Regions from separate parts of the Homo sapiens genome. Here region 1 is linked to region 2. Evidence: fine-mapped expression QTL. A gene starts in region 2. The other region holds a variant in brackets. All regions are shown on one strand. Distances are from middle to middle.

Region 1 (10,190 bases), 21 kb before region 2:
TGAGGGCAAAAAAGAGCTTTGCACGGTTCATTGCCGGATGGCCAAAAGGATGTCCCTAAGCCCTTCCCTGAGAAGGAGACAGAGCCAAGAGTTAGCGCTCCTGACTTCCCAGCAAGTGCTGTGTTGTGTGCAGAACTGGCTGCCCTCCCTCTGGTATTTTTAGTACTGTTGATAAATTTATGAAGAAGTCTTTACACAAAAGGGGGAAAGCTTTTAGGATCTGTCAGGTTTGTCTGGAAACATTTATCATTTATACTGTTCCAACCAAACTCATGACTTAGAACTCCAGAAATGTGATTTAAAAATTACTTTTTCTGTCGGGTGCGGTGGCTCACGCCTGTAATCCCAGCACTTTGGGAGGCCAAGGCGGGCAGATCACAAGGTCAGGAGATCGAGACCATCCTGGCTAACACGGTGAAACCCTGTCTCTACTAAAAATACAAAAAAAAGTTAGCTGGGCATGGTGGCGGGCACCTGTAGCCCCAGCTACTCGGGAGGCTGAGGCAGGAGAATGGCATGAACCCGAGAGGCGGAGCTTGCAGTGAGCTGAGATCGGGCCACTGCACTCCAGCCTGGGCAACAGAGCGAGACTGTGTTTCAAAAAAAAAAAAAATTACTTTTTAATTCATACCTGTAATCCCAGCACTTTGGGAGGCCAAGGCAGGCAGATCACTTGAGATCAGGAGTTCAAGACCAGCCTGGCCAATGTGGTGAAACCCCAACTCTACTAAAAATACAAAAATAGCTGGGTGTGGTGGCAGGCGCTTGTAATCCCAGCTACTCGGGAGGCTGAGGCAGGAGAATCGCTTGAACCTGGGAGGCGGAGGTTGCCATGAGCTAAGATTGAGCTACTGCACTCCACGCCTGGGCAACAGAGGGAGACTTTGTCTCAAAAAAATAAATAAATAAATGAATAAAATAAATAAAAATTACTTTTTGATAAACATGGAAAAAAAGTTATGCTGTGAGGCTTTGGTAGTATAATAAAATTGACTAAACAGTTGTTGAACAGACGATTACAAAATAGCCTTTAAGTTTGCCATCCTCAGCATCAGGATGAAGAATATGGAACGTTTTTTTTTTTTTTTCTGAGATGGAGTTTCGCTCTTATTGCCCGGGCTGGAGTGCAATGGTGCAATCTTGGCTCACTGCAACCTCTGCCTCCCAGGTTCAAGCGATTCTCCTGCCTCAGCCTCCCAAGTAGCTGGGATTACAGCCATGTGCCACCACGCCCAGCTAATTTTGTATTTTTGGTAGAGAGATGGTGTTTCTCCATGTTGGTCAGGCTGGTCTCGAATTCCTGACCTCAGGTGATCCACCCGCATTGGCCTCCCAAAGCGCTGGGATTACAGGTGTGAGCCACCGCGCCCGGCCAGAACAGTTTTTAAAATAAAGAATTGAAGGTGAAAACTATGAAATGTCCTCAATTAAGGTCAGGCAGAGTGTGAGGGGCAGAATTAGAAACAAATTGTTCTAGTCTCATCTCTGTCCTTTGTTCCAGTGGCCAAACCACCTAGAAACAATCCTTTTCTGTATAACCAGATAAACTGGTTGCAAAAGATGACAATCAGAAGAGCAAACCCCGGCCGGGTGTGGTGGTTCATGCCTCTCATCCCAGCACTTCAGGAGGCTGAGGTGAGCAGATCACTTGAGGTCAAGAATTCAAGACCACCTTGGCCAACATGGTGAAATCCCGTTTTTACTAAAAATACAAAACTTAGCTGGGTGTGCTGGCACATGCCTGTAACCCCAGCTACTCGGTAGGCTGAGGAGAGAGAATTGCTTGAACCCAAGAGGCAGAGGTTGCAGTGAGCCAAGATTGTAACGTTGCACTCTAGCCTAAGAGGACAGAGCAAGACTCCGTCTCAAAAAAAAAAAAAAAAAAAAGAGCAAACCCTGCCGGGAACAGTGGGCAGTGACTCATACCTATAACCCCAGCACTTTGGGAGGCTGAAGCAGGTGGATCACTTGAGGTCAGGAGTTCAAGACCAGCCTGGCCAACATGGTGAAACCCCCGTCTCTACTAAAAATACAAAAAATTAGCGGGACGTGGTGGCGCGTGCCTGTAATCCCACTTACTCAGGAGGCTGAGGCAGGAGAATGGCTTGAACCCAGGAAGCAAAGGTTGCAGTAAGCTGAGATCATGCCACTGCACTCCAGCCTGTGCCACAGAGTGAGACTCCATCTAAAAAAAAAGAGCAAACCCGTGGACATCCTCTTTGGAAGGGTAGGCTACATCAGCGGATCTCACTCCACTCGTTAAAACTTCATCTCTTCGTTTGTTTACTGTGAGACTGACTGGGGTGTTTTGGTATTTGGAGGGTTGGTTGTGAGGATATGAGGAATTCTATTTGTTTGCTTTAACTTGTTCCTAAGGAGTTAAAACTAAGTTTTAGTTCATTTAAAATACAAAAACAGTCAAAGCTAATCTGTGCTGATAGGGGTTGTTCCCCATGGGAAGTTTGGGGGAGGGGTCGTGCCTACACTAGGGGGTGCTGTTCGTGTTCTGTTTCTTCTTTTTTTTTTTTTTGAGATGGAGCCTTGCTCTGTTGCCCAGGCTGGAGTGCAGTGGCCTGATCTCAGCTCACCACAACCTACCCCTCCCGGGTTCAAGCGATTCTCCTGCCTCAGCCTCCTGAGTAGCTGGGACTACAGGCATGCGCCACCATGCCCGGCTAATTTTTGTATTTTTAGTAGAGACAGGGTTTCACTCTGTTGGCCAGGCTGGTCTTGAACTCCTGACCTTGTGATCCGCCTGCCTCAGCCTCTCAAAGTGCTGGGATTACAGGCATGAGCCACCGCATCCAGCCTGTTTCTTTTGTTTGTTTCATTTTTTTCTTTCTTTTTCTTTTTTTAAGAGAGAGGGTCTCACTCTGTTGTACAGGCTGGAGTGCCGTGGCATGATCATAGCTCACTGCAGCCTTTAACTCCTGGGCTCGAGCAGTCCTCCCTCCTCCACCTCTTGAGTAGTTGGGACTACAGGTGCACGCCACTATGCCCAGCTAATTTTTTTTTTAATGTTTTTAGAGATGGGGTACCTGCTGTGTTGCCCAGGCTGGTCTCAAACTCCTGGTCTCAAGCGATCCTCCAACCTCAGCTTCCTAAAGTGTTCTGTTTCTGGATCTGGGTGCTGTTACATGGGTGGGATTGGTTGGCTTAATTTGTAAAAGTTAATTAAGTTGCATCTTTATGGTGTGCATGCGTGTGTGTGTGTTTGTGTGTGAGACTTTTTTTTTTTTTTTTTTAATGGAGACAGAGTCTTGCTCTATCTCCCAGGCTGATTGCAGTGGCCCAATCTTGGCTCACTGCAACCTCCACCTCCCAGGTTCAAGCAGTTCTACTACCTCAGCCTGCCAAGTAGCTGGTTCTACAGGCGCACACCACCATGCCTGGCTAATTTTTTGTATTTTTAGTAGAGACAGGGTTTCACCATGTTGCCCAGGCTGGTCTCGAACTCCTGAGCTCAGGCAATCCACCCGCCTCCAACTCCCAAAGTGGTAGGATTACAGGCATGAGCCATCGCCCCCGGCCGTGACTCATTTCTTTTTTAAGTGACTGGGCGTGGTATCTCACACCTAAAATCCCAGCACTTTGGGAGGCTGAGGCTGGAGGATGGCTTGAGGCCCGGAGTTCGAGACCAGCCTGGGCAACAAAAAAAATTTTTTTTTAATTAGTCAGGTGTGGTGGCACATGACTATAGTTCTAGCCACTCAGGAAGCTGAGACAGAGGATCACTTGAGCTCAGGAGTTCAAAGCTGCAGTGAGGCCTGACTGTGCCACTGCACTCTAGCCTGGGTGACAGAGCAAGACCCTGTCTCAAAAATAAAGAAGTTGACACATAAAATTAACCAAAAAATAAAAAACAAAAAAGAAAAAAAGAGAAACTAAGTGTGTGTTTTTTTAAAGCCAGCTTTTCTTCAGATTTTTTGGTGGGCAGGTCGTGAAAGACAGGTGAGGAAGTAGATCTTGGGCTCAGCATGCCTCTAAAAGTATAATTTCTTTTTTTTAATGTGGAAAGAAATGCATAACTCTGTTTCTGTTCCTGTCCCCCTCTCTGCCTCTGTGATGCCTGAGATACTGGGGATCCCACAGCTGGGGCCACTCAGAGGCTACCAGGAACGCTTCCAGTTTGCATCTGGCTGTTAGTGCCAGGACCAGAAACCCACAGACCTCTTCACAGACCTCCTGACCGTGATGTCCCTGAAGCCTGGAAGGCTGTCACACAATGAAGCAGAATTGAGTGATGGGTGTTTGTGAACCCAGTGAACTGTGTAACACAGTGAACTGTGTAATTTGAGTGAAGTCAAATTCCTTGACTTCATTTGGCCCATTTCTTCCTTACTACCAAAAAGAAAGATGTTAGATGGGATTTAATACTTTGCTTAACAGTACAGAAAAACAAAACTTTGGATTAATCCCAGAAGAGAAATGCTGACCCTGTTGCCTTCTGAATTGTAGGAGGGGAGCTGGCACTGTCTGCATTCTTAGTGCTAGTATTTCTGTGGCTGCACAGCTTACGAAGACTCTTCGAGTGCCTCTACGTCAGTGTCTTCTCCAATGTCATGATTCACGTCGTGCAGTACTGTTTTGGACTTGTCTATTATGTCCTTGTTGGCCTAACTGTGCTGAGCCAAGTGCCAATGGATGGCAGGAATGGTGAGTGGATCCAGCCCTGCCAGGAGCTCCCCACCCCAGGGTGTATGATGCGCTCTCGGGGCTTGTGCTGTGCTAAGCATTATGAGACATGCAGAAGTAAGAGACAGGCCCAATGCATTTTGCATTTCAGGAGATGAGACTCAAGTCGATTTTAAAAGGCCGGGCGTGGTCGCTTACACCTGTAATCCCACCACTTTGGGAGGCTGAGGCAGGTGGATCACTTGAGGCCAGGAGTTCGAGACCAGCCTGGCCAACATGGTGAAACTCTGTCTCTACTAAAAATTAAAAAAAAAAATTAGCCAGGCGTGGTGGCACACGCCTGTAGTCCCAGCTACTGGGGAGGCTGAGGCAGGAGAATTGCTTGAAACCAGAAGGTGGAGGTTGCAGTGAGCCGAGATCGCGCTACTGCACTCCAGCCTGGGCAACAGAGCGAGACTCCATCTCAAAAAAAAAGAAAAGAAAATGAGGGAAGGGAGAGTGCTTGCATGGAGTTGGGATTTGCAGAGGGGGTGGGGAGCCATTTTGTTGCCGCTTAGTTCCTGTGATTGTTCCCATCACAATAGAGCTTTTCTTCAAGTGACGCTGCCTGAGAGGAGAGGACAAAGAGTACTGTGGTAGTGAAAATTGTGTTTTAGTCTCTAAGCTCTCACTAGCCAGGAAGAGGGGAGCCAAACCATGAC[C/T]TTGTTTACGAGAAGGAAATGAAATGGATTTTTTGTTTTATGGGGGGAGGAGGGGACATTACCTAACACATATGACTACCATTTTTGTAAAAACAATGCATGATTATAAAGAATTCAAGTCGCTTGGGGTGATGGGAATGAGTTTATAGTGCTGAGGTTAACCTGACCTTGCAGCCTTAGTATCTGTCAGTCTAGACCCCGTAGGTCTGTAATGACCATTGTCTCTAAACCCAGGGCTCCATGTTTTCAGCTGCCCTGTCCATCCTTGTAAACTCAGGCTGAGGTCTAGCGATTTCCAACAATCTGTGAGTGAGCTTCCTCCTCAGGTTAGATTTTGGTATGAGTGCCCCGTGAAAGTCGTCTCTCTGTTGCTGTAGCTCAACCTAAGGCCTCTGACTAGAGGAGTGATTTTAAAGGATTTATTGACGATCTTTCTCAATTCATGAATTATTGATTGGCTCCAGCCACTTAGCTAGCATCTCTCTGATTCCTCTGAACTTATTCCTCCCAGGCATGTCTGTGGTGGCATTCTGCCAGCCAGTACCATGGAAGGGGCTGTCATTCCTGGTGGGCAGTGCTGGTTCTCCCCCTAAAGGAACTTTGCAGAGCGCTTGGTGACTGCTAGCTTTTAGCGTGTTCTTGTTTGTTGGCGTTACCTGCCTCTCCCGGAGTTTCCTCTACTGGCTGCGTCTCAACTTCTGCCTTCCCTCCTGCGTAGATAGTCAAGGAAGAGGAGCCCACAAAAATAGCTTTCTAAGCACTCCTTTCTGAAGCTGTTTTCTGTTTCACCTCCTTGTCCTTCAAGGGTCATCTGGGATCATTTAGGACAATATGGGGAAAGTTGGTTTCAGTAATTCATTGAGAGAAAACACATTGGGGCATTTGCCAACCAAAGGGCGTGATAGAAATAACATGGGCTCCAGAGTCTTGATGGGCCTGCATCTGGCTCATTGAGCTTCTCTGAGCCTCACAGCCTTCATTAGTAATTATTGACACATACTGATTTCACAGGGTTCTTCTTAAAGTGAAAAGAAGACTATCTGTAAACTAGGATGTAAGCTCTATAAGGACTGGGATCTTGCCTGACTTATTCCCTGCTTTATCCTTTGTGCCTTCAGCAGGGCCAGGCTTAGGAGGCACTCCTTAAGTAACTAATGAATAAACAAATAATTAAATACTGAGTAGAACTGAGGAAATGTGAGCCTTCCACCTGCCTCCCTTTTCCTGCATTATAATTCTGGCGTTACCCTTAACAAATCCTTTTTCCTGTAGGTAAACTCTCTGCATTTAGCATAAGGGACTTAGTGATTTGAACTTCCAGACACTGTAACTTTTCATCCTGTTGACTTGCTCTTGAAGCCTGTCAGATTTAAAACTGTATTTTTAATATTTTGCTTATTTCATTTTTGTAGAGACAGGTTCTCGCTATGTTGGCAGGCTGGTCTCAAACCCCTGGCCTCAAGTGATCCTCCTGCCTTGGCCCCCGCAAAGTGCTGGGATTACAGGTGTGAGCCACTGTACCCAGCCTGTTTTGAACTTATAAAAATATAACCTAGTAGTTAAATGGCTAAACTTGTAAACACTAAAAGACTATAGTAGATTGATTATATAAAACAAGCTTTTAAAATAAACTGACACAGGTAGACCGGTGGATTTTCATCAGTCCTTTACTATCATTAACGGATTCCTGCTTCGAGGTGGCCATGTGGAATTGCATGATCCTTGGTTCTCTTACTTGAATCAGCTTTTTAGGGTTCCCCCTTGGCTCCAGAGCCTCAGGCTCTTGCCCATTATCAGTGGATACATTTGTTTCTTCAGTCAAGCCTCCGACTAGGCTAACTGCTTCCTGCTGCGCAGAGGGAAGTCCCTGTTTGCTTTTCTGAAGCCAGTGGTTTGCTCCGCAGGTCCTCAGAAGGTCTGTGTTTTTCCCTTCTTCCTAGCAGCCGGAGAAGAAAGTGGAAGATGATGCTTTGAGTGTTTCCACTCCTGAAACTCAGTCTCTCGACTGTTCTTTCTCATCCAGACCTGGATGGCATTGAGTTGTTCATCTTGCAGTTTACTGTCCCTCTCTTTTGAGAAAGCCCCCTGGTAGCCTTTCCACTGGTGATTTCTTTCATTGACCAGAGCTAGTCAAGTCAGCATTCTGCTTTCAGGCTCTCCCTAGCAGGATGGTAGCTCAGAGAGAGATTTCCTTAGAAAGTGTTTTTCTTCACTGTAAAACATAAGAAAGAAGACTTAAAACTGGACTTAGCAAGGGAAACACAAAGGAATCTTACCATTCGAAAGTAGATCACAGTAGGGGAGCTGAACTTTGTGCTTGAACTGTTTAGAGAAGAAGCAAGAGAATGTGTCTGTGTGGAATTCTCTTGCCAGGGGAACTGAAGCTGCCCATAGCTGAGGAACGTATCTCCTTTGTCCAGAGAGACAGGGCTTTTCCCTCTGTATTGGGAAATTACATCAGGAAATTACATCGGGATATTGAGGAACAGGTTCCCCTCTTTGTACTTGGGAAATTATATTAGGATATTGAGGAACGGAATAAGTGGATAATTGTGTTTCTGCTGACTAAATGATTTGTTTAATTCCCTGAGCCTGTGAAATTGTTTAGTGTTGGCTAACAATTCTCATTCCTATAGCCTACATAACAGGGAAAAATCTATTGATGCAAGCACGGTGGTTCCATATTCTTGGGATGATGATGTTCATCTGGTCATCTGCCCATCAGTATAAGTGCCATGTTATTCTCGGCAATCTCAGGAAAAATAAAGCAGGTGAGACCTCTTTTAGAGCCTCTGCATATGGATTTTAACCCTCAGAAGTTAGTTCTCCATGGTCCTGCATGCTTTTCCTTCCTGCCCTAGTTAGTTGACTGTATCAAATATTGATTTTTGGCAAGACACTTCTCTGGGCCTTGATCTTCCCATCTGTGAAAATGAGAGCCTTACATTGAAAGACCTCTCTAGACCCAAGTAGCCCTGACATTCTGTGATTCTACGTTTTGTGTCTGATCAGCATGTGAGAGCTAGTGTTACCATGGAGTTAGTACCAGCCACAGCATAAAAACTTGACCTTTAAGTTAGCTTGTGTTGACTTATCACAGGTATAGTTTCCATTAGGTTTTTTGAAATATTAAAAATTGAATAGGCCAGGCGCAGTGGCTCACGCCTGTAATTCCAGCACTTTGGGAAGCCAAGGTAGGAGGATCACTTGAGGTCAGGAGTTCAAGACCAGCCTGACCAACATGGCAAAACCCCGTCTCTTCTAAAAATACAAAACTTAGCTGGGTGCGGTGGTGCAGGTGCCTGTAGTCCCAGCTACTTGGGAGGCTGAGGCACTAGAATCACTTGAACCTGGGAGGCGGAGGTTGCAGTGAGCTGAGATCACGCCACTGCGCTCCAGCTTGGGTGACAGAGCTAGACTGTCTCAAAAAAAAAAATTGAATAGTTTTATTTATTTATTTATTTATTTATTTATTTATTTATTTAATTTTTGAGATGGAGTCTTGCTCTGTTACCCAAGCTGTAGTGCAGTGGCACAATCTCGGCTCACTGCAACCTCCGCCTCCAGGGTTCAAGTGATTCTCCCGCCTCAGCCTCTCAAGTAGCTGGGACTACAGGTGCGCACCACTATGCCCAGCTAATTTTTGTATTTTTTAGTACAGACAAGGTTTTGCCATGTTAGCCAGGGTGGTCTCGAAATCCTGACCTCAGGTGATCCACCCACCTCGGCCTCCCAAAGTGCTGGGATTACAGGCGTGCACCACTACACCCGGCCTATTATTTATTTATTTTATTTATTTATTTTTGAGACAGAGTCTCACTCTGTCACCCAGGCTGGAGTGCAGTGGCACCATCTCAGCTCACTGCAACCTCCGCTTCCTGGATCCAAGCAATTCTCATGCCTCAGCCTCCCAAGTAGTTGGGATTACAGGCGTGTGCCACCACATCTGGCTAATTTTTATATTTTTAGTAGAGCTGGGGTTTCACCATGTTGGCCAGGCTGGTTTTGAACTCCTGACCTCAGGTGATCCGCCCACCTCAGTCTCCCAAAGTGCTAGGATTACAAGCATAAGCTACCGCGCCCAGCCAAAAAACTGAATAGTTTTAATATTTATCAAGTACTTATTTTGTCCCAGGCCCTGTTCTGAGTGCTTTACATATAGCTTCACAATGCCGACATGAGATGACTACAGTCCGGTCTTCATTTTACAGATGAGGAAACTAAGGCACAAAGAGGTTAAGCAACTTATCTAAAGTTACACAGCTAGTAAGTGGGAGAGCCAGGATTTAAACTTGTGCAGTCTGACTCTGGAGTAGTCTGAGCTCTTAATTACTAGCTTGGAGGATTGCTGGAGTAACTGGCTTTTCTCTTGTGCTATGGACAGTTGACAATTTAACCTAAGCATATAACTTTTCAATATGTAATTGACAGTAGAAGTGTGACAGGATGGTGGTTTACACACATGTATGATACTCTTTTCTAAATAAGAGTTTCTGGGCTGGGCAGGTTGGCTCACACTGGTAATCCCAGCACTTTAGGAGGCTGAGGTGGGAGGATCACTTGAGCCCAGCAGTTTGAGACCAACCTGGGCAACATAGGCAGACCCTGTCTCTACAAAAAATTCAAAAAATGAGCCAGGCATGGTGATGCATACCTGTGGTACTAGCCACTGGGCAGTTTGAGATGGGAGGATTGCCTGGGCCTGGAAGGTTGAGACTACAGTGAGCCATGACTGCACGACTGCACTCCAGCCTGGACAACAGAGCAAGACTTTGCCTCAAAAAAAAAAAAAAAAATTCTGTAAATGATTTGCGAGTGAAGTGGTGAAACTTTCTTTTCAAACCTTTAAATGCT
Region 2 (10,190 bases):
AAAACACAATGCTTACTAATGATATTTCTCCTCCTGGATCAGACAAGAAGATCAGATTTTTTATACCAGTTTTGATCAGTTTAATGCCTTATAAAAGGCAAAAAATATAATATATTATATATAATGCCTTATATAATGCCTTATATATAAAAGGACCTTATATAAAAGGACCTGTTTCCAACTCTTTACACGTTACCCTTCTGAAACAGAAGAATAGCAATTTATGTGTTCAACCTAACGTACTTAACATCTGCTATATGGAAGGCACAGAGGTAGGTCCCATGGGGAATACAGGGCTGCATAAGACAAGATTCTTGCTCTCAAAGAGCATTCATTTCAGTATGAAGATGATGTAGATTTATCAACAACCTATTGCTTTAAGTTAAGATCATGGAGGAAATCTGTCAGTGCCCATCATTTCCTCACCACCTTATCCTCTCTTCTACACAAAGCCCAAATCCTGACACCTAATAGACTATCTATAGGACCATATGCTGTGCAGTTGCACTCTCAGAAGGGGCACATGCTTGGTTTAATCCTCTGCTGTTGCTGTCTTGGAATTCTTAGTGATTTTATCTTCGAATTTGTGTTTGGTAAGTGAAGCCAGTGAGACAATGAAGCATGCACATGAGCAGTGGAAACACCCCAGCGGGGAACGCATGCATGTGTGCATGATTCAGGGCAGTCCAGAGTGCAGCTGAGCCAGTACCTGGGCCCAGTTGCAGTGGTGATGGTGGCGGGCAGCAGGAGTAACAGTCAGGACAGCAATGGCTGCGGCTCCAAAGACAGGAAAGGGCTCTGCATATGGACATTGCCAGGACCACCAGTGGGAGACCAGCTCGCCTGTCCCTTGCCAGAGCTTAGCCCCGCATCATCTGCACAAATAGTAACTCTCCATCCTGAGTACTGGGACAGGAACTCATTCTGCTAACTTCTCAGTAAATTAGTACAACATGTATACAATAAAAGTGTATACATGAATATTGTCATAGCATAGCAGGGGGTTATTAGAATTCTTAAAGGATCTAAAATGTCTAGTTTTGAAAACTACTACAACATGGCAAAGCAAATAACCTCAGGCTTAGAAACAGAAATTAAGTTTAAAGATTGTCACATTCTACAGAAAAGAATGCTATTTTCCTAGGAAGTACAAACCAATTGTTTGGCAGAAAGATAATTAAACATGTTTTTTTTCTTATAATTGAAGAGTCAGTGACAGAATACATAAACAGGCCTTATGAATTATATACAAATTATGAAGCCACTTTCAGTTTCTTGTAAGACCTCCACAAGTTTCAGGAAATATTTCCTTATGTCTGCAGAAACATTAAAATATCATTGTGTAAATTTATACTTAAAATTAAATTCAGACTTTTACAGAAAACTGAGTTGTCTAAGGAGTTAAGTCCCTTTAGAAAAATTATTCCACAAGAACCAACAACTCTAGAAGTATTAAAATTTATATTTCAAAATAATTTATCAGAAATTTACCTTAGTGTTGTCACAGTTTATGAAACACTCTTAACAGCTGCATCAGCAGAAAGATCCTTTACGAAATGAAAAATTATCAAAATTTATTTGTGACTTTATATTTCCCAAGACTGGCTGGTGTTGCTTTCAGTCTTATCTATTGGTAAAGAAATTGTATGACATAAATTTCATATCTATTGAAAATGAAAGTGAAATGAAAAGAATAAATTTTGATGAATTTGCAGAAAAGTGAGCCAGAAAAATATAATAGGACATCACATTAATGAATGATTATTGTTTACTGTATTATATAAAATTATGACATCACAATTATTAGTTTAGCAATGTTTAAGTTCATGTAGTTACTCCAGTATCACTATTATCCCATTACATTAGTATCTTTAACTGTACTTTTTTCCTGTTTTTTACAGAGGAGGTCCCATATTTTCGTTTGGCACCAGGCTCAGCGAATTACATAGCCAGCAATGACCACAAGTAAGAGTGTTACAGATTTTTGTTATAAGCCATCATAGTAGACAATGCTTGCCTATGAATGCTTAAGGAGAGTAGAAAAAGAGCAAGAAATGCAAGAAAATGCATGTTCTTAATGTGTGCCATATAAAATCTATCAGGTAATAGGCATTTAATCTATGTTAAGAGTAAAGAAATATAGCCAGGCGCAGTGGCTCACACCTGTAATCCCAGCACTTTGGGAGGCCAAGGCAGGAGGATCACGAGGTCAGGAGTTCAAGACCAGCCTGACCAATATGATGAAACCCTGTCTCTACTAAAAATACAAAAATTACCTGGTCGTGGTGGCACACGCCTGTAGTCCCAGCTACTTGGGAAGCTGAGGCAGGAGAATCACTTGAACCTGGGAGGCAGAGGTTGCAGTGAGCCAGGATTGCACCACTGCACTCTACCCTGGGCGACAGAGAGAGACTCCGTCTCAAAAAAAAAAAAAGAAAGAAAGAAAAAAAGAGTAAATAATACTGTGGGCTATAGTGCAGAATTTGTCATAAGGAAAAATCTGTTTGCATTTAATCCAGGACTGATGTCACAAAGCAATTGGGGACAATGCCTTCAATTGATGCCATTCTCATTAAAATTAGGAGTTTTGGCTGGACACAGTGGCTCATGGCTGTAATCCCAGCATGTGGGGAGGCCAAGGCAGGAGGATTGCTTGAATCCAGGAGTTCAAGACCAGCCTTGGCAATGTAGTGAGACCCTCATCTCTACAAAAAACAGAAAAAAATTAGCTGGGTATGGTGGCACGTACCTATAGTCCCAGCTACTTGGGAGGCTGAGGTAGGAGGATAGCTTGAGCCCGGGAGGTCGAGGCTGATGTGAGCTGTAATCATGCTGCTGCACTCCAGCCTGGGCAACAAGAGGGGACTCTGTTTCAAAAATAATAATAACAATTTAAAAATTATGTGTTTTGCTGTCCAGAGCATAAGTTTGACAGGGATAAACATCCATTCAAATGGGAGTCAAATTCAGGTATCTTATAAATAGCAAGCCTGTTAGATTGTCCTTCTATGAGCATTCTTTGTTTTCAAATATGGAGAACTATTTTTCTAAAGATCAGAGAAATGGCCACCACAATATGGGCCCACCTCATCTATTTTTGGTTTCTTCAAAAATGATGACTCCAATGAACTTTGCAGTAAAAACAAAATGACAATAAAGATGACTTACTTGTGAAAAATAAACAGCAGGGAAAAGCACTGAAGCCAGATAAACCAAATCTGCTTCCCATAAAGTGAAAAAAGATCCACTGAATTATAATTGTTTTTATTTTCATATGATGATTGTTGCATAAAACTAATTTGTTGCTGAATTAAGAAACATAAGACACATATTTACCCTAAATAATTTTAGTTCATCTCCTGGCTTTTAGTGAAATTATCGATTTCTAGGTGATATAATTTGTGTGCCGGCTGGGCAAAGTGGCTCACACCCGTAATCCTAACACTTTGGGAGGTGAAGGCAGGAAGATCACTTGAACCCAGGAGTTCAACACCAGCCTGGGCAATAGGGTGAGACTGTGTCTCTACAAGGAATTTAAAAATTAGCGGGGCATGGTGGTGCACGTGTGTAGTCTCAGCTACTCGGGAGGCTGAGGCAGGAGGATCACTTGACCCTGGGAGTGAGCTGTGATCACGCCACTGCCCTCCAGCCTGCATGAAAGTGTGTCAATGCTTTTTTTTCCTCCTTCTTTTTATTTTTATTTTTTCTTCACTCTGTCACCTAGGCTGGAGGGCAGTGGTGCAATTATACCTCGCTGCAGCCTCTATCTCCTGGGCTTAGGTGATCTTCCTGCCTCAGCCTCCCGAGTAGCAGAGACTACAGGCACATGCCACCATACTCAGCTATTTTTTTTTTAATATTTTGTGGAGATGGAATTTCACCATGTTGCCCAGGCTGATCTCAAATTCCTGAGCTCAAGCAATCTGCCCACCTCAGCCTCCCAAAGTGCCGGGATTGCAGGCATGAGCCACTGTGCCTGGCCCAATGCTTTTAATGGGCCCATTTTAGCCACATTTCTAGTACTTATATTATTCAAATAGACTCAGAAAAGCTGTAAGCCTGTACAGAATTACAGTGTAAGACATCATAAACAATGTTTTAAAAATTAGAAAAACCAATTGCAATACATGTAAGAAAGAAAAAATAAATATTCACAATATATAAACCGCTCTTACAAATCAGTGAAAACACAACTTTACAGCATGACAACTTTGAAAGAGGAACACCAGATAAGAACTGTCTGGGGCGAGCATAGAAGAGTCTCATTCCTCTGTCTGAGTGGTACTGGGTGAGTGGAATGGTTGGTGATTATAGGCTGACAAAGCCCTAGGCTTTTTCTTAGCCCCAGCTCCCTGCCTTCTCCCCTCACTGCCCCCTCCTGTGGGGGCACTACCTAGCAACTGAGGTTTGGGTTTTACAGTGAAAATAATTTTATGAGTCAGAAAGGAGTGAGAAAAGTGTGTTATCAGATAGCATTCCACAGTGGTAAAAGCAAAACAAACAAAAAACAGGACTATTTCTCTACATACTGTCTGGGACTTTGGGACCTTCACTGCAGACCTCTTGTGGCAGTGTATGTGTGATTCCAGTCGTATGGTGGGTATGTGGTTAGGGTATTATTACATCGTAGGTCTATAAAGGGCCAAGCCCCTTGCTCCGACATGCAAAGAAAGGATTGCAAACTGGCAGGCTGCAGGTCATACCGTGCTCATAGACAGCTACTGTTTTGTATGCACAGTTTTTAAAATTGTGAATTAGTGTAATGGTTAATTATATGTGTCAACTTGGTTAGGCTACGGGGCTCAGTTTTTTGTTACAACACTAATAACAATGTGGCTGTGAAGATATTTTGCAGATATAGTTAATATCTACAACCAGTTGACTTTAAGTAAAGGAGTCTACTTTCAATAATGTGGGTAGGCCTCATCTAATTAGTTAAAAGCCTTAAGAGCAAAATCGGAGATTTCCTGGAGAAGGACTTCTGCCCCAGGATTGTAACATAAAAATCTGGCTTGAGTTTCCAGCCTGCTGGTGTTTTCTAAGATTTCAGACTTGTTGTATGCCTCCTACTGGTTCTGTTTCTCTGGAGAACCCTGACTGATATAGTTACTATGACACAGACTATTAATTGCTGACCCCAAGAGCCTTTCTCCCTTTATTCCCTATAGTAAGTGCCTCTGAAATAGAGACTACATTTCCCAGCTTCCCTTGCAATTAGCTGTCACCATGCAGCTAAGTTCTAGCCAATAAGATGTAAGCAGATGTGGTTTGTGGCAGCTCCCTTGAAACATACCTGATGCATACCCTGTGTCTCCTTGTTTTTCCAGCCAGTCCTCCATCCTTCTGCTGGGAACTTGGATGCTAGAGCTCTTGCAGTCACACTGGGCCATGAAGATAAAGGTCACCCCCTAGGAATGATAGAGCAGAAAGCTGGAAGGAACCTGGGTCCCTGATCTCTGTGGAGCCACTGAACTGCCTCTAATGAAGGAAAACATTTCTCTCATTTATGCTGCATGTTCTTTTCGATTTTATGTTATATTTAGTGGAGTATAATCCTAATTTGATACAATTGCCAACTTTTAAAAATCAGGAAATTTCACACAAATATTCAGCTCTCTGGCTTTTCTCTTGAAAATTTGGTACATCTGACAAAACATGAAGTCATGCTTCCCATTGCAGCAACTGACCTGGGCAGGATAATGGATGCCTGCTTCAGACAGGGATGGAGACCTCACCAATTTTTTTTCCTTCATTTTAATTGGGAAGTGGGGCAAGATGGAAAAATTGTGGATGCCAACTTTGTAACTTTGTCTTTCTCCCTGCATCATTTTTAGCAAGAACATTTCGACACTGGTGTAGTCCACAAGGGAAGATACTGAGAGAGGAGAAAGGAAGAAACCTTTCAGGCATCAGTTAGGGTGGGTCCTTGGTTAAATTCTTTCAAACAAAAGAACAGCCTGAAAAATCAAGCTGCAGGCACAGATAAGGGGATCTGCACAGGTGGCCTTGACTAAGACATTCCCACAGCCACACAGATATGAAAGCCTACCCAGATGACTTGCCCAGATACTTCTGCAGTGGAAAATTCCATCCCCTGACACATGCGCAGTAAGGGGAAAAAAGCAATATGGAATAAAACTTAAGCTAAGGGCCCACATGCACACTAGAAGGATGAGGTGGAGCTACCAGAAATTCATGCCTTATGCAAATGAGATGCCCAGCCCTCACCGGTTCTTATAAAAGCCTTTGCAGTCACCTGTAAAAGCAGCAACCCTCCTCCAGGTCCCCTCTCCACTGTGGAGAGCTTTCTTCTTTTGCTTATTAAACTTTCGCTGCAACTTCATCCTTTGCATCCACGCTCCTTAATTTTCTTGGTCATGAGACGAAGAACTCCAGGTGATACCTCACCTGCTACATTATGGAGAGACTGCTACATTATGGTGCACTGGTGAAAATATAACATTTCTGATGGTGGTGGAAGCAGAGGCCATCCTTTGCTGTTTCATGCCCAATTCTGTAGGCCTGCCTCAGAGAGAAGGGGAGCACAGGTCTCAGCATCCACAGACTTTTCATGGCGGTGAAGCTCTACTATCAACACTTGGAAAGAGGGAATCAGAGGGTCTTCTACTCCATGGCTGCAACTTTTTCTCATTTTAAAGATCCTCCTCTAGTCTAATGGATTTATATTTCTCTGGCTGACGTAATTTTGACCCTACTTCTTGGTAATACCCGAGCCTTAATTTGATGAAAGAGTATCACTCCCACCTAATTTCCAACCACCTCTCTGCCCTGAGTAGCTTCATCAAAATTCACACCTTGCTTGACAATGGAGAGAAGATTTCGCCTAACCTGGGGGAGGATGGAGGGGATGGAGGGTATAGCCTCAGTTGCTGTCAGACCTAAACCAGACTTGGCAATAATTGGGGGAGGTGGAGTGCCCTGGGTTGAAGGAGTCTTGGTGAGTTAAACACCCATTATTGTCTTTGGCTGTAAATGAACTCAAGGTCACTAGGAAGTGAGTGGAAAGTCAGATGAACTCTGTCTCTCAGAGGCAGGCCAAGGGCAAAGAAGGCACAGAAGCCACTTCAAAACTTTCAGGCCTTTTGGGAGGAAAGGGTGGGTATGGAATGAGGCTGACTTTCAAAGATGAAGCTGTGACAGATCAGAAATCTGTATTTTTGAGCCAGACTATGTCTGTGTCTAGGTTTGCCTTTGTCTTTTTGTTGTCAGAATTTCATTAAACTAATTATTCATTCATGTATGAGTGTCTTCTACAGCCAGGAACTCTTTAGACAAGATTCTGGCCCTGATGACACTTACGTTTTAGTTGCCAATACAGATAATAAATATAAGAAGTAAACAAAGGCCGGGCATGCTGGCTCACACCTGTAATCCCAGCACTTTAGGAGGCTGAGGAGGTCAGATCATTTGAGGTCAGGAGTTCAAGACCAGCCTGGCCAGTATGGTGAAATCCTGTCTTTACTAAAAATACAAAAAAAAAAAAAAAAAAAAAAGAGCTGGCATGATGGCACATGCCTGTAATCCCAGCTACTCGGGAGGCTGAGGCATGAGAATTGCTTGAACCCAGCAGGCAGAGGTTGCAGTAAGCTGAGATTGCACCATTGCACTCCAGCCTGGGTGACAGAATGCGACCCTGTCTCAAAAAACAAAAAACAGGCTGGGCACAGTGGCTCATGCCTGTAATCCCAGCACTTTGGGAGGCCGAGGTGGGCGGATCACTTGAGGCCAGGAGTTCAAGACCAGCCTGGCCAACATGGTGAAACCCCGTCTCTACTAAAAATACAAAAGTTAGCTGGGCACAGTGGTGCGTGCCTGTAATCCCAGCTACTCGGGAGGCTGAGGGAGGAGAACTGCTCAACTGGGACTTGGGAGGCAGAGGTTGCAGTGAGTGGAGATCACGACACTGCACTCCAGCCTGGGCTACAGAGTGAGACTCTGTCTTGAAAAACAAAACAAAACAAAAAAAGAAGTAAACAATTAGATAATCAGCCTGGGCTACAGAGTGAGACTGTCTTGAAAAACAAAACAAAACAAAAAAAGAAGTAAACAATTAGATAATCAAGATGGCCAGGTGTGGTGGCTCACACCTTTATCCCAGCACTTCAGGAGGCCAAGATGGGCAGATCACTTGAGGTCAAGAGTTTGAGACTGGCCTGGCCAACATGGCGAAACCCTGTCTCTATTAAAAATACAAAAATTAGCCAGGCGTGGTGGCATATGCCTGTAGTCCCAGCTACTCAGGAGGCTGAGGCAGGAGAATCGCTTGAACCCAGGAGGAAGAGGTTGCAGTGAGCCGAGATCGTACCACTGCACTCCAGCCTGGGCAACAGAGCAAGACTCTGTCTCAAAAAAAAAAAAAAAAAAGATAATTTCAGATAGTGATAAGTGCTATGAAAAAACTTTCAAAAATCCCCAAACTTAAAAAGAACCAACAATGAGACAGAGTGACAAGGGTGAATGGAAGAGTCTATTTTAGATGGGTGGTCTGGGAAGGCTGCTCTTGAGGAAGTGAACTTTAACCTAAATGACCAGAATAAGACCTAAAAAAAAAAAAAAAAAAAAAAAAGAGTGTTCTCAGAAGAGAAAACCAGAAGTATGAAGAGTCTGAGGTGGAAATAAGCTCTTGGTTGGGCATGGCACATGAGGTGGAGAAAGCCAAGAGACAAGGTCACACAGGGAGGCAGGGGTAGCTCACATTAAACTTTCTTTTCTTTTTTTTTTTTTTGTTTTGAGACAGAGTTTCACTCTTGACACCCAGGCTGGAATGCAATGGCGTAATCTTGGCTCACTGCAACCTCTGCCTCCTGGGTTCAAGCGATTCTCCTGCATCAGCCTCCCGAGTAACTGGGATTACAGGCGCCTGCCACCACACCCAGCTAATTTTTGTATTTTTAGTAGAGATGGGTTTTTGCCATGTTGGCCAGGCTGGTCTCGAACTCCTGAGCTCAGGTTATCCACCTGCCTCAGCCTCCCAAAGTGCTGGGATTACAGGTGTGAGCCAACGCACCCAGCCGAGCTCACATTAAACTTTCATTCAGAGATTGTTTTATCTTTATTCTCTGCCCATTTAGAAGTCATTACTTTTAAGCAGTGGAATGAAATTATTTTAATTTTGAAAGCTCATTCTGGCTGCTGGTTAGATTCTAGATTGGCAGAGGCAGGGAGACCAATTAGGAGCCCATTTAATTGTCCAGGTGAGAAATGACACCTGGTTTGTACAAGGTGGTAACAGTGGAGATAGAGGTGAACAGATTCAGATAGATTTTAAAATTAGAGACAAAATTTGCTGGTGGATTGGATGTGGGGTATGGGGAATCTAATGGAGTAATCTAATATGGTGGATGTTGGTTCCATTTACTAAGATGGAAAGCCTGAAGGAGGAACAGGTTTTTGGAGGGACATCAAAAGACCTGTTTTGCCCTTGCTCTGTTGGAAATGCCTGTGAAACATCCAGAAGGTGATGCAAGGAAAGAGTTGGATAAATGAACCTGGAGCATGTATTTAGCATTCTTTTTGGAATTTTCAGCCTGCTTGTGGAAACCTAGGAAAGCCCAAGAATGTAGGGAAACAGCTGCCCTCCCTTTCCCCTGCACCAGCAGAGTTCGCATACAAGGGTCCAGATCCCCATCATTTAAAGGGGTTTAGCAAGCTGATGGGTAGCAGTGTGCTTCGTTTCATGAGCTTTAAAGAGTTGAGAAGGTCAAGCAAGTTGCATATTGCTATTCGTCATTCACTTACATTTGCTGAGTGCTTTAATTTTTTTTTTTTTTTTTGAGACAGAGTCTTGCTCTGTTGCCCAGGCTGGAGTGCAGTGGTGTGATCTCAGTTCACTGCAACCTCCACCTCCCGGGTTCAAGCCATCTCCTGCCTCAGCCTCCCAAGTAGCAGGGACCACAGGCACACGGCACCACACCCAGCTAATTTTTGTATGTTCAGTAGAGATAGGGTTTCACCACATTGGTCAGGCTGGTCTCAAACTGCTGACCTCAGGTGATCCAGCTGCCTCGGCCTCCCAAAGTGCTGGGATTACAGGTGTGAGCCACCGTGCCCAGCCTGAGTGCTTTAAATTTGAATGATCTTCAGTTGACTCTTAGCGTGAAGTTTCTGGTTTTTGCTTCTCCTCTTTCCTCATATCTCCCTGCCCTGGCTTCTTTAACCAACCTTTGCTC

The links. PIP is the estimated chance that this variant, and not a neighbour inherited with it, causes the effect.
Region 1: its variant is fine-mapped to the expression of SRD5A3-AS1 in tibial nerve (GTEx, PIP above 0.99).

The regions. Positions count from the first base shown.
Region 1 is chr4:55,359,616-55,369,805 of GRCh38, forward strand. It overlaps SRD5A3 (steroid 5 alpha-reductase 3), which reads left to right. Exons shown (of 5, transcript NM_024592.5): 3 at 4,459-4,656; 4 at 7,973-8,107. SRD5A3-AS1 (SRD5A3 antisense RNA 1) reads right to left here. Exons shown (of 4, transcript NR_037969.1): 4 at 6,986-7,548. Among named protein-coding and RNA genes, the nearest start is that of LINC02928, 13 kb to the right of the region's middle. RefSeq lists enhancers at 4,961-5,649, 5,650-6,337. The variant C/T (reference allele first, on the strand shown) is at 5,337.
Region 2 is chr4:55,381,016-55,391,205 of GRCh38, forward strand. SRD5A3-AS1 (SRD5A3 antisense RNA 1) reads right to left here and starts at 4,565. Exons shown (of 4, transcript NR_037969.1): 1 at 4,530-4,565. It overlaps LINC02928 (long intergenic non-protein coding RNA 2928), which reads left to right. Exons shown (of 3, transcript XR_941060.4): 2 at 1,902-1,965; 3 at 5,328-7,257.